3 linked regions of the Homo sapiens genome follow. The protein of the gene in region 3 purifies or fractionates together with the protein of the main gene of each other region. This does not show direct contact. Each region holds a gene or a part of one and is shown on either strand. Other genes may lie near its edges. The genes, in order: SLC6A15, GLB1 and SFXN5.

Region 1 (3,751 bases), on a different chromosome or scaffold from region 3:
AATAATAATTCCTTAATATCATCAAATATACCTAATCAATGTTATATTTTCTGAACTCTTCTTTTTACATTCCGAATTTCTAAAAAGGTCTACATATAATAACTAATTGTTATGAATTGTTATGTCTCTTGAGTCCATTCTTTCTTTCTTTTTTTTTTTTTTTTTTGAGACAGAGTCTCACCTGTTGCCCAGGCTGGAGTACAGTGGCACAATCTCGACTCACTGCAACCTCATCTTCCCAGGTTCAAGCAATTCTCCTGCCTCAGCCTCCCGAGTAGCTGGGATTACAGGCGACCACCATCACGCCCGGCTGATTTTTGTATTTTTAGTAGAGATGGCGTTTCACCATGTTGGTCAGACTGCTCTCGATCTCCTGACCTCAAGTGATCTGCCCACCTTGACCTCCCAAAGTGTTGGGATTACAGGCTTGAGCCACCACACCTGGCCCAGTCTTAATCTCTATGTTTCTCTTCCCTTTTTCATTTCTTCCAAGTTGCTCCAGAATCTTAAAGGACATCTTCAATGTAAGAATTCTACACCTGCCCTTTAGAAAAAATATGAACTTTGAAGACCAAGAGACCTCATTTCAGATCACAGTTCTGTGTTCTTTTGATGTATATCTTAATCTCTCTAAGCTTCATTTTTGGTGTTTTCCAAAAATATAATATAATACCCACCTTTGAGGGTTATTACTAGAACCATAAACAATGGATGCTTAGCATACTACCTCACATATGGTACAAAATCGACAGATGCATCTATTAGTAGTAGTATTTTTTCTTCTGTTGTTATAAATAGTGTTATTCAGGAACACTAGCATTAAAAAGAGAGATTCTTTAGTAAGTCTATCATGAATAACGAACTGTCTAAATGGAAATCTAAATTACAAATGTATTTATTTACAGATCAGTCCAAAAACAATATCAAATTCCATCATGGTACAGGTTATGAGTTTTGAGTAGCCTAGTAAAGCTTAGAGAAACCTGGCCTTGAAATGAAGGTCAAGGTTACAGTACTGGCTCTACAGCTAACATATTGTATCCTCCTGTAAAAGAAGGGGCAGTTTCCCATCTGTAAGATATGGATCATGTTAGTTAACAAGGAGTATTTTTTGATTACACACTTTATTTTTTAAGAGCAATTTTAGGTTCACAGCAAAATTGAGCTGAAAGTAGAGAGATTTCCCATATAGCTCCTACCAATATATGTGCATAACCTCCTCCATTATCAGCAACCCCCACGAGAGTGGAATGTTGGTTACAATTGATGAACCTACATAAGTTAACACATCATTATTACCTAGAGCCCACAGTTTACACTGGAATTCACTGTTTGTGTAGTACATTCTCTGGATTTGGACAAATGTATAATGACGTGTGTCCACCATTACAGTGTCATACAGAGTAGTTTCACTGCCCTAAACATTCTGTGCTCAGCGTATACATCCCTGGATCTGGCCCAACCCCTGTTAACTGCTGATGTTTTTACTGTTTCCATAGTTTTACCTTTTCCATATTATAATATAGGGGAATCTTACAATATGTAACCTTTTCATATGTGACTTTTTTCACTAAGTAATGTGCATTAAAATTTCCTCTGTGTCTTTTCATGGATTGAATAATATTTCATTGTCTGGATGTATGACAATTTATCCATTTACCTACTAAAGGATATCTTGTTTGCCTCCAAGTTTGGGCAATTATGAATATAGTTGCTATAAACACCCACGTGCAGAATTTTAAGTGGGCATAAGTTTTCAACTCCTTTGGGTAAATACCAAGTAGCATGATTGCTGGATTATACACTAAGAGCTATTACTACTATTATTATACAGTACATGATTATTAAATGTAAGTTCTCCTAAGCTTCCTGACCTGGAGCTTTTGGCAACCACAAAAAACATTCTCTAAGCTTTGTTATAAAGCTCATTCAATACCCACAATATTCTTTATGCTGCTTAAAAGGACTCTGGCCTTCACTTAAGGTGCATGCATTACTACTTTACATAGGGCTGTAATGAGCTTGGTGATCTTACTACCTCTCAGTCCATGTATGTGATTAGAGACAGTGACTATAAAAAGTATTGGACAAATCCTCCAAAGGTCTTTTTCCCTTGAGAGAACTCTGGTGCTTCACATCATTTCAAATACATACACTTTTCACATCAGTGTACCTGAATGGTGTGAAAAGTATGTGTATTTGATATGAATTTATGAATAAATAGTGAATTTATTCATTATTTATGCGTATAGTGAATTTAAGTAATGACTCTATATAAAAATAATGTTTCTGTGCAGCAAATGACATATACATCTCAGACCTGGGAAAATATCATTTCCCAATATTGTCCTGCTATATAAGGCATTATGACACATGCACTCCTCTTATAAATCAATTTAGCAATATAATTAGGAGATAAGCTTTAGAGTTAAACAGAAATGGACATGAGTCCCAGGTCTGCTGCTGTCCAGGTGGGTGACAGGCAAGTCACAGGGTGTCTCTCTAAGCTTGATTTTCCTTATCTGTGAAATGTAGATAACAATAAAGAACTCAAAAGAAACTAAGGTTCTTGGAACTCTGCCAATACTTACTAAATCCTGAAAGTTAGCTATTTGATAACCAGGACCAAATCAAAGATCTAAAATTCTACATACTATTACATCCTATATAATTCTATTTGCCCAACAGGGAAATGTAATTTACCAAAACTGTTGAATCAGTGAGAGCCTGCAAAAGGTTTGATTTTTTAAAGAATTGTTCCCTCTATTCATTTATTTCCTCTTCTAAATGAAATGAACATTGATAATTGATGTTTTCAAACTAGAGATTAAAAGTGAATACATAAAAGCAAATATACTTACTTATCTATGCCATAAACAAAGCATACAGCAATATTCTCCAAAATGACTACAATTAGCAGAGGCAGTGTAGCAGAATAATCATCAAACATTGTAACAAAGTAATTTCCAGAGCGTTGCACAAATATCAGGCCAATACAAAATGCCAGAAGACAACAGATAACTAGACAAAAGAAATAAATGAAAAAATGAGACTCTATTCAGAGACAAGGCCTTTAAACTTTATTATAAATTATTATATTCAAACTTTTAAAACTTTTATAACATGTCCATCATATAAACAGGCAATACCTTTCCTGATACATGGCATATAACCTATTAGGAATTAGGTTACCTGGGTGTAGCCTCAACATTCATACAAATTTATTCTAAGACAGTAATTCATCTCCCTGAGCCCGTGGAAACTCATTTACCAAGTACAATAATAAATGAGTCAAAGTTTAGAGAAAAATTTAAAAGTATAAATTTCCATACTCTATTCGTATAATTAATAGCAAAGTGACTTCTTCAGGCACCAAATATTTATAGGTCATTTATTCATTTAATAATGTTCTACAGTGTTGAAATATAGATGAGATTTTTGAATTAATAATGAGACTAATATTGCTTATATTATTATGAAATATACATATTATATATTTGATTGAAATATGGTTACTTTTCAAGCATAAGTGGAAAAATCTGACCAGACTTAACCTCAGCAACAATCCACATTTATATCTTTATCTTGCCTGAACAGATTAGTTTGGAAACAAATTATAATGGAGTTGAGCAATCTGATCATCCACATAACATCTAAGAAAAATCATCTAAAAAGAGTTTCCCCAGTAATAGCTAAGAAACAGATGCATAAATTTCTGACCAGCTACTACTTAGAAAAGTTTTTGAAATTC
Region 2 (3,751 bases), on a different chromosome or scaffold from region 3:
CAAGTTCCATTTCATAAGCATCCAAGAGATGGGCCCTCACATGCCGGGTGGACTGTGCACCTGGTAGGTAAGCTGGGAATTGTTTTCCCTGGATCCCCTTCCCTGGATGGTTCTGGGTTAGCGTTGGTCAGAAGAGGCCCTTGCTTGAGATTGGGAGGGTGGAGAGAAGCAGCAGCCATTGCTCTGGGGAGGTTATCGTGCAGTGGTGCAATCCTGGCTCGCTGCAGCCTCCGCCTCCACCTCCCAAGTTCAAGAGCTTCTTGTTCCTCCGCCTTCTGAGTAGCTGGGAATACAGGCGTGCACCACCATGCCCAGCTCATTTTTGTATTTTTGGTAGAGATGGGGTTTTGCCATGTTGCCCAGGCTGGTCTCCAACTCCTGGCCTCAAGAGATCCGCCCACCTCGGCCTCCCAAAGTGTTGGGATTACAGGCGTGAGCCACCATGCCTGGCCTTTTTCTTTTTCTTTTTTCCTTTTTGAGGCAAGATCTCACTCCAGACACCCAGGCTAGAATGCAGTGGCACCATCACGACTCACTGTAGTGTCAACCTCCCACCTTAGCCTCCCACATAGCTGGGACTACGGGCATGCCCCACCATGCCTGGCTAATTTTTGTACTTTTTTAGAGATGAGGTTTCGCCATGTTGCCCAGGCTGGTCTCAAACTCCTGGTCTCAAGTGATCCTCCCCCATCAGCCTCCCAAAAAGTGCTGGGATTACAGGCATGAGCCACCTCGCCTGGCCATGCACATGTTTCTTACAGGAGGGGAATGCTAGGAATGGAATTGCTGGGTCATGGGATATGCATGTGTCCAACTTTAGTGATACTATAAAGAGTAGCTATTTTTTAAAAAAGTGTGAAGGAGGAATTGAATTTTCACATTTAATTAATTTAAACTTAACCATATGTGGTTAAAAATGAACGTTCTTGTAAAGAATATTATACAAGGCCAGGTGTGGTGGCTCATGCCTGCAATCCCAGTACTTTGGGAAGCCAAGGCGGGCAAATCACTTGGGGTCAGGAGTTCGAGACCAGCCTGGTCAATATGGTGAAACCCTGTCTCTACTAAAAATACAAAAATTAGCCAGGCATGGTGGTGGGTGCCTGTAATCCCAGCTACTCAGGAGGCTGAGGCAGGGGAATCGCTTGAACCTGGAAGGTGGAGGTTGCAGTGAGCTGAGATTGCACCACTGCACTCCAGCCTGGGTGATAGAGCAAGACTCAGTTAAAAAAAACAACAACAAAACAAACAGAAAAAACCCAACAATATTATACAAGAAGCTACTGCACTGGACTACAGAGCTAAGGTATGGTGAGATCCTAGTGACTTCATTATTAGACCATCAGTCTTCCATTTCTCTCTATCCTCACAGCCTGACTTCCAGAGCAAGTCATAAATCAATGTTGTCTTAGACTGCTGCAGCCTCCTCACAGTCTCTTGACTTTATTAACTCTAGAATCTAGGCTCTGCATAGCTGCCAAAGTGAAAATAGGATTCTTTTCACACATTCCTGTTTCAAACCTCCTTCCTGTGGTCCACAGCCCATACCTTCCTCCTTTCCTCCTTGTGTCTGCCGCACTCCCCCTTGCTCACTCCACTCTCCACTACTTCTTGTTCTTTCCTTCTCTTTCTTCTCCTTCTTGTTCTTCCTTTCTCTCTTCTCTTCTCCTCTCCTCTTCTCCTTCTCCTTCTTCTCTTCTCCTCCTTCCTGTCTTCTCTCTTCTCTCTCTCTCTCTCACTCTTACATCTTGCTACATTGCCAAGGTTGGACTCCAGTTGCTATTCACAGGCACAATACAGCCTCAAACTCCTGCCCTCAAGCGATCCTCCTGCCTCAGCTTCCCGAGAAGCTGGATCTTCAGATGTGCATCACCACACACAGCTCCCCAATTACTTTCAGTTAGTTTTGCTTGGGCATCAGCTCGTCCCCATGTGCAAACACTACTCACCTCAGCCTGAAGCCTTCTCATCACTCAGGCAGGGCCACGACCCTCCTCCTTAATGCTGGGCTTTCCATTCCAAGTCACTCACTATCCTTTCATTTTTTCTTTTTCTTCTAGTTATTATCATGATTTGAAATTCATATCTTTTGTTTGATGACTAGTTTATGAGCTATTTCCAGCTATAACACAGGCTCTAGGAAGGGAAAGTCTTTGTCCATTTTGTTTGAGGCGAGATTCTCCGCACGCAGGAGAGTGATATTCAATATACACTTAGTAGCACTCATGGCTGCTGCTACTTGTTGATAATTCTGCCAAGAAAAGATTCGTTGAAGAGGTGACATGAAGCCCTTCTGAAAGAATTCTTCACGTTCCTCTGCTCCCAGTTTAAGAGTTTTAAAGAATATTGTTCACTAAAAGAAAAACATTTGCCTTCCCTCCTTGATTAGAACCAATGAAAAACACTTTAATATAATTTACCTTTAAAAATTCTATTTAAAAAATATATACATTGATTTTTATTTCTCTTAAAAAGTTATGCTTTTGCAATTATTTTTGGTGGGGAGGTATGCACGTGTTGCTGAATATGATCTAAAAGTAGATACACTCTTAATGAAGTCAGCCCCATGGGGACCAAGCAGTGGTTTCTGGGGCTTCCTAAGGCAGTCTCAGTTAAAATAGTTCCATGACAAAGTGACTTTCTCTGACCACGGCTTGACCCTGGCAGACTCTCCACCCTTTGCTGTAATCACTAAGGCAATAATAATAGTTTCATAAATGTGAGGTTCCTGGAAATGCCTGACCTACTTTTTTGTTGATCAGACAGATACATGTGTTTGTCTGTCTGTTTTAAACTATCTGGATAAATGGAATTTAAAACAAAAGTCTCCCTCCCTCCCTCCCTCCCTCCCTTCCTTCCTTCCTTCCATCCTTCCTTCCTTCCTTATGAGGCAGGGTCTCACGCTGTCATTCAGACTAGACTGCAGCTGCACTATCATAGTCCATTGCAGCCTCGAATTCTTGGGCTTAAGCGATCCTCCTGTGTCAGCCTCTTGAGGAGCTGGGACTATAGGTGTGAAACTATCGGGGGGAGGTATGCACGTGTTGTTGTTAGCCATCATGGCCAGCTAACTTAAAAACTATTTTTAAAAATAGACATAGAATCTCACTATGTTGCCTAGGCTTGTCTCAAACTCCTGGCCTCAAGTGATCCTCCTGCTTTCACCTCCCAAAATGTTGGGATTACAGGTGTGAGCCTCTGTGCCTGGTCTCACTACTGTTTTAAGTTGTAGTTTAAAATTTTCCAAAATTTTTTGGGAGCTCCTTTAAAAGCAACAATAAGCTCAGGGTGAATGCTGCCTTTGTCACACTCTGAAAGAAAACATTTAGACACTTGCAGGACTTAAAATGGGAAAGACAAAGGTCCAGTTCCCAAGGTTAAAGGCTCTCACACACCGAACTCATGAATCACTGTGATGCTTACCTGGGAGAAAGAGAAGAAAAAGAGGAGAATTGAAAAGAAAAAAAGGTAAAAGCCTCTTACAAGGCTTGCTTAGAAATAAGAGGTTAAATAGATCTCAATGAAATACACAGAAGATTAATTCTCCCCTTCCTTCAGAACCCCAAAAGGCTCTGCAGCTGACGCAAATCACACTTTTTTGCTTCCTCCTCAGTCTTAAAGTAATAAAATTAAATAACTTTATGGTTTCTCTATATTTTGGGACAGGTCCAAATAGAACTGAAGCCATCAAATGCATAAAATAACAGCATAAAAGATAAATCACTTCTCATCAAATCCCAAATAAAAATTC
Region 3 (3,751 bases):
GGGCAAGATCAGCCCCTTCTTGCAAAAGGCCTACAGGGGGTTTGAGGAAACCAAGTCGTCACACAGCAAACATTTAGAAGACCACAGGGCAGACTGTATGGAGAGCTATGAGGATCTGACTCAGGTGGCCAAAGAGATGTGCAGGAGGAAGCCTGCGATCTGATGGGACCAGAGAAGAAGGGAGCAAGTGTTTGCCAGAGAGGCAGGCCCGACTGAGCCTTTAAGAACGAGCAGAATGGGGGTGGGAGCGGGGACAGGCAATGTAATAAGGTCACTCAAGTCCAGGCAGGGACACCCCGACACTCTCGCCCTAGATGGCCTCCTACACTGGAAGGAAGATGCCAGTCTCGCCTCGGATACCTACATGCTGAGATGGCCTACTTTTAAAAGGAATTAAAGTCCTGTTAAGAAACACTGGGGACATTTTTTTCAGACGGCTCAGGAGCCAAGTTCCCTAATTATCAGCAAAGCTCGGGGCACCCCCTTGCTGGAACCAGTCCCCTTCCACCACAACAACAAAAAAAGAAAAAAAAAGCCACCGCACCGACCTTAGCACAATTTCCTTTCTTCCTTCAAAGTTCTTTTCTGGCCGCCTCGGCTGCCGCCCACCCCTGGCAAGCCCCGGTTCACTTCAGCGGTCTCTCTGCCTGTTTCCTAATAAATTCCGTCTCATTGGTGCGGGAGGCGCGGGAGCCCGAGGGTCTGCGGCGCGGGAGCGGCCCCTCCCCGGCTCCGGTCTCCGGGCCCAACCAGGCGCCCGGGCTCCGCGTTCCACCCCCGCCTCCGCAGTCTAGGGCCGAGTCGGCGACGCCCCAGAGGAGGTCCCGGAGGGAAAGGACCCCTGTCGCCGTGCCCCGAAGAGCCTGAGCGGGTGTGCCCAGAGCCAGTCCCCGGCGGCGCGGGGGCCCGGGCGCGGGAGACCCTCCGCGGAGAACACAGCGAGGAAGAGGCTGGGGGGGGGTTCCCAGGCGGCAGCCCCTCGGAGGGACGACGGCCCCAGGGGATGACACAGCGTTTCCCCCGCACGCCCTGGCTGCGTCCCCTCAGGGCATCGGCCGGCTTGCTGCGTCAGCGAATCCTCAGCCCGAGATGGAGAGCAGGGACGGGGGACGCCGGACCGCCGCTCGCCTCGGCACTCGCCCCCTCAACCTGCTGCGCGCGCCGAGCCCGGCTTGGGGGCCAGGGCTGGGGAGTGACCGCGGGGCGCGACGCTGCCCGGCGGCACCGCCAGCAGCTCGAAAGGAACGTCAGTCCCCACCGGGGGAAAAAGTTAGAAGGCATCCCGGCCACGCCAACTTCCCATCCAGGGCCAGACTAGAACTTTGCGTCCCGGGCGGGCAGCTGCACAACCCGGAGCGACCCTGAGCAGCCGCTCGAAGCCGGGCGCTCGGGACCTTGACCGCAGCCGCCGGTGGCCAATCACAGGGCGCCGCGGGCGGGAAAGGCTAGAGGGCGCGGGCAGTCGGGGAGTGACGGCGCCAAGGGCCAATAGGAAGCCAAGATGGGAGTCCGCGCCCGCCCCGTTGACCAATGGGAAAAGGGTGACTGTGACCGAGGTTCCCCCCCTGGCGCTAGCTGCAGGCTCCGCTGGCCGCGGGTGGGAGACCCTTGGGCGGAAGGGGACTTTGGAGGGGAGTTTGCTCGTCCTCTCTTTGCCACCCGCCGGCCCGCAGACCACAGCCCGGTCCTCACCTGCTGGAAGCGGGGTTTGCCCAGTTGGAAAGGAGGTGCATCGCTCGAGGCGCTAGCGGCACTAGCCGCCGCCGCCGATGCTGTAGTCGCTGTATCCGCCATGGCCACTGACGCCCGCAATCTCCGGCCCTTTTAAAATGTCCCTCCTCGGCCCCCGCCACAGCTGCCTCTCCCGATTGGCCCTAATCAACCGCAGCGAGCGGGAGGCGCAAGGCGTTGTGGGGAGTGTAGTTTTTCGCGTCGCGGCGCTTACAACCGTAGACTGCGGAGAGTTGCGGCCGTCCGGAGAGGTCTCGGTGCCCGCTGTCCGCGTTGCAAGGTGCAAGGTCGGCAGTCCAGGAAAGGTGTTCCTGTACGACGACCACGGGCCACCCCTCGCTGCTTAGTTGCCCCCAGAAGTTAGAGTTGCTGCCGTGGGCGTCGCTCCTGGGGCCAGGCAGCGCAGAAGGGTCCCATTCAAGGGGGAACCTGGGACCAGATGGGCAAAGACTCCAGGCGGAGTAGGGTTAACCTCGGAAGGCTTTCTCCAAGGAGTTGCACTGCGGACCTTCTCGTACTTTCCTCCGTCGCCACCCTGCCCACTCGTCCTGTGCTCTCCGGCTGCCCTGACACTCAGTTCCTGGAGCATGCTGGGGCCTGCCCGCCTCCCGACCCCTGAACATTCTGTACCCGGAAGACTAAATCTTCGCCTGATGCTGGCTTTCTGGCTTTAGCCTAAACATTGCATTTCCCAGTCCATCACTCTGCTTGCACAAAATCCCACAGAGGCTCCGTGGCACCCAGCACTTCTCTTTTGCACTCACAACTACTTACTGTTCTGGACAGTCTTTCTTACTGTAAAGTTCACAGGGCAGGGGCTATGACTTTTTGATTCACTTCAGTTTTCAGAGCCAGACATAAAAGGGCTCACAGTAGAGACTCAAATAAGTGTTGGCTGTGAGTTCATCAGTGGGGGATTAAGAGCCCTGGCAGCTTTCACCTTGTCTGGCCAACCAAGGAAGATCCCTCCTGGGCCTAATTCCTGGGCAGGAGGAGAACTTGGGACTAGGGTGGGTGGGGAGGGTGTTAGGTAAGGGGGAGTATTACAGATTGTGGAGTAAGGATCAGTATGGATAATAAACACATACAGTTGTAGAATGGATTAGCTGAAGATTCCCAGCTGAATTACCTGGTCAGTGAGCCAGACTTCGGGAGCTGCCTGTTTTGCCCAAGATGACAGTAGAAATATTTGGTCTTCTAGGGAACTCCACTTTGGGTCTCATTAGTCTCGTGGTGGAGTGCAGGGTTGGCTCATGTCTGCCAGTGTTTCTGGACACTACATGAGCTGTAGCAGTCAAAGTTTTTCATCCTCTAGTAGTTGAACCACAAGAAACACTTTTCATAAAGCTAGGGGGAGATTCTAGCTAGCCACGAAGAACAATTTGTATCTTGGATTTGTATCTTATCTTAGAGATTCTATCTAGCCATGAAGAACTATTTGTATCTTGGATTTGTATCTTATCTTCCCCTGCTAGACCATGCAACTTGAGAATAGGAATCCATTTCTTACCCTCTGTATTACCAATAAATGGGCCCATCTTAGGTGCGCAATAAATGTGGGTACCCTGGGAGTCAGAAAAGACTAAGTTCAGGCTGCTGGGCAACACTGTGCTGCTGCCCCCTTATAAGGGGCAGGGACAGTGTCATCCAAGAATCCCATCACCTTGATTTAAGGTGCTTTCTCCCACAGCAGCCTCCTGTAACTGTTCATTCCAAAACAGGAACACAACAGAGCCACCTGCAGTACATGAATGTTTTATTCTTCATAAAGTGCTTAAAACATGAAGAACAAGCTCTTTATAAAGAGCCTTAACTAGGAAGACAAACAGCAAAGCAGAACCATGCCTGCTCCCTGCCCAACCCACCTGCAACTTTCCTCCAAGTGTGGCTAGGAGAAGAAACATCAACAAGGACCCTGGGCTTCGATTCAAAAACTCCTCTGAAGCCATCCATGCCCTGGGCATTAGGGAGGCCCACAAAGGTCAGGGCCAGGGCTGGGAGTGAATAAAGCCCAGAGGAA

The links.
Region 1: the proteins of SFXN5 (region 3) and SLC6A15 purify together in Homo sapiens (affinity purification with mass spectrometry; 2 studies listed by BioGRID and IntAct, with this or other methods). This does not show direct contact.
Region 2: the proteins of SFXN5 (region 3) and GLB1 purify together in Homo sapiens (co-immunoprecipitation; 3 studies listed by BioGRID and IntAct, with this or other methods). This does not show direct contact.

The regions. Positions count from the first base shown.
Region 1 is NC_000012.12:84,864,173-84,867,923, forward strand, and holds part of SLC6A15 (sodium-dependent neutral amino acid transporter B(0)AT2), read right to left. Parts: coding exon of another isoform or gene 3,731-3,751; exon of another isoform or gene 3,058-3,730; intron 3,022-3,057; coding exon 2,862-3,021; intron 1-2,861.
Region 2 is NC_000003.12:32,999,499-33,003,249, forward strand, and holds part of GLB1 (beta-galactosidase isoform a preproprotein), read right to left. Parts: intron 1-3,751.
Region 3 is NC_000002.12:73,069,912-73,073,662, forward strand, and holds the start of SFXN5 (sideroflexin-5), read right to left. Parts: upstream 1,802-3,751; 5' UTR 1,795-1,801; coding exon 1,693-1,794; intron 1,414-1,692; exon of another isoform or gene 549-1,413; intron 1-548. UniProt on the Homo sapiens protein: Mitochondrial amino-acid transporter. Transports citrate. Does not act as a serine transporter: not able to mediate transport of serine into mitochondria.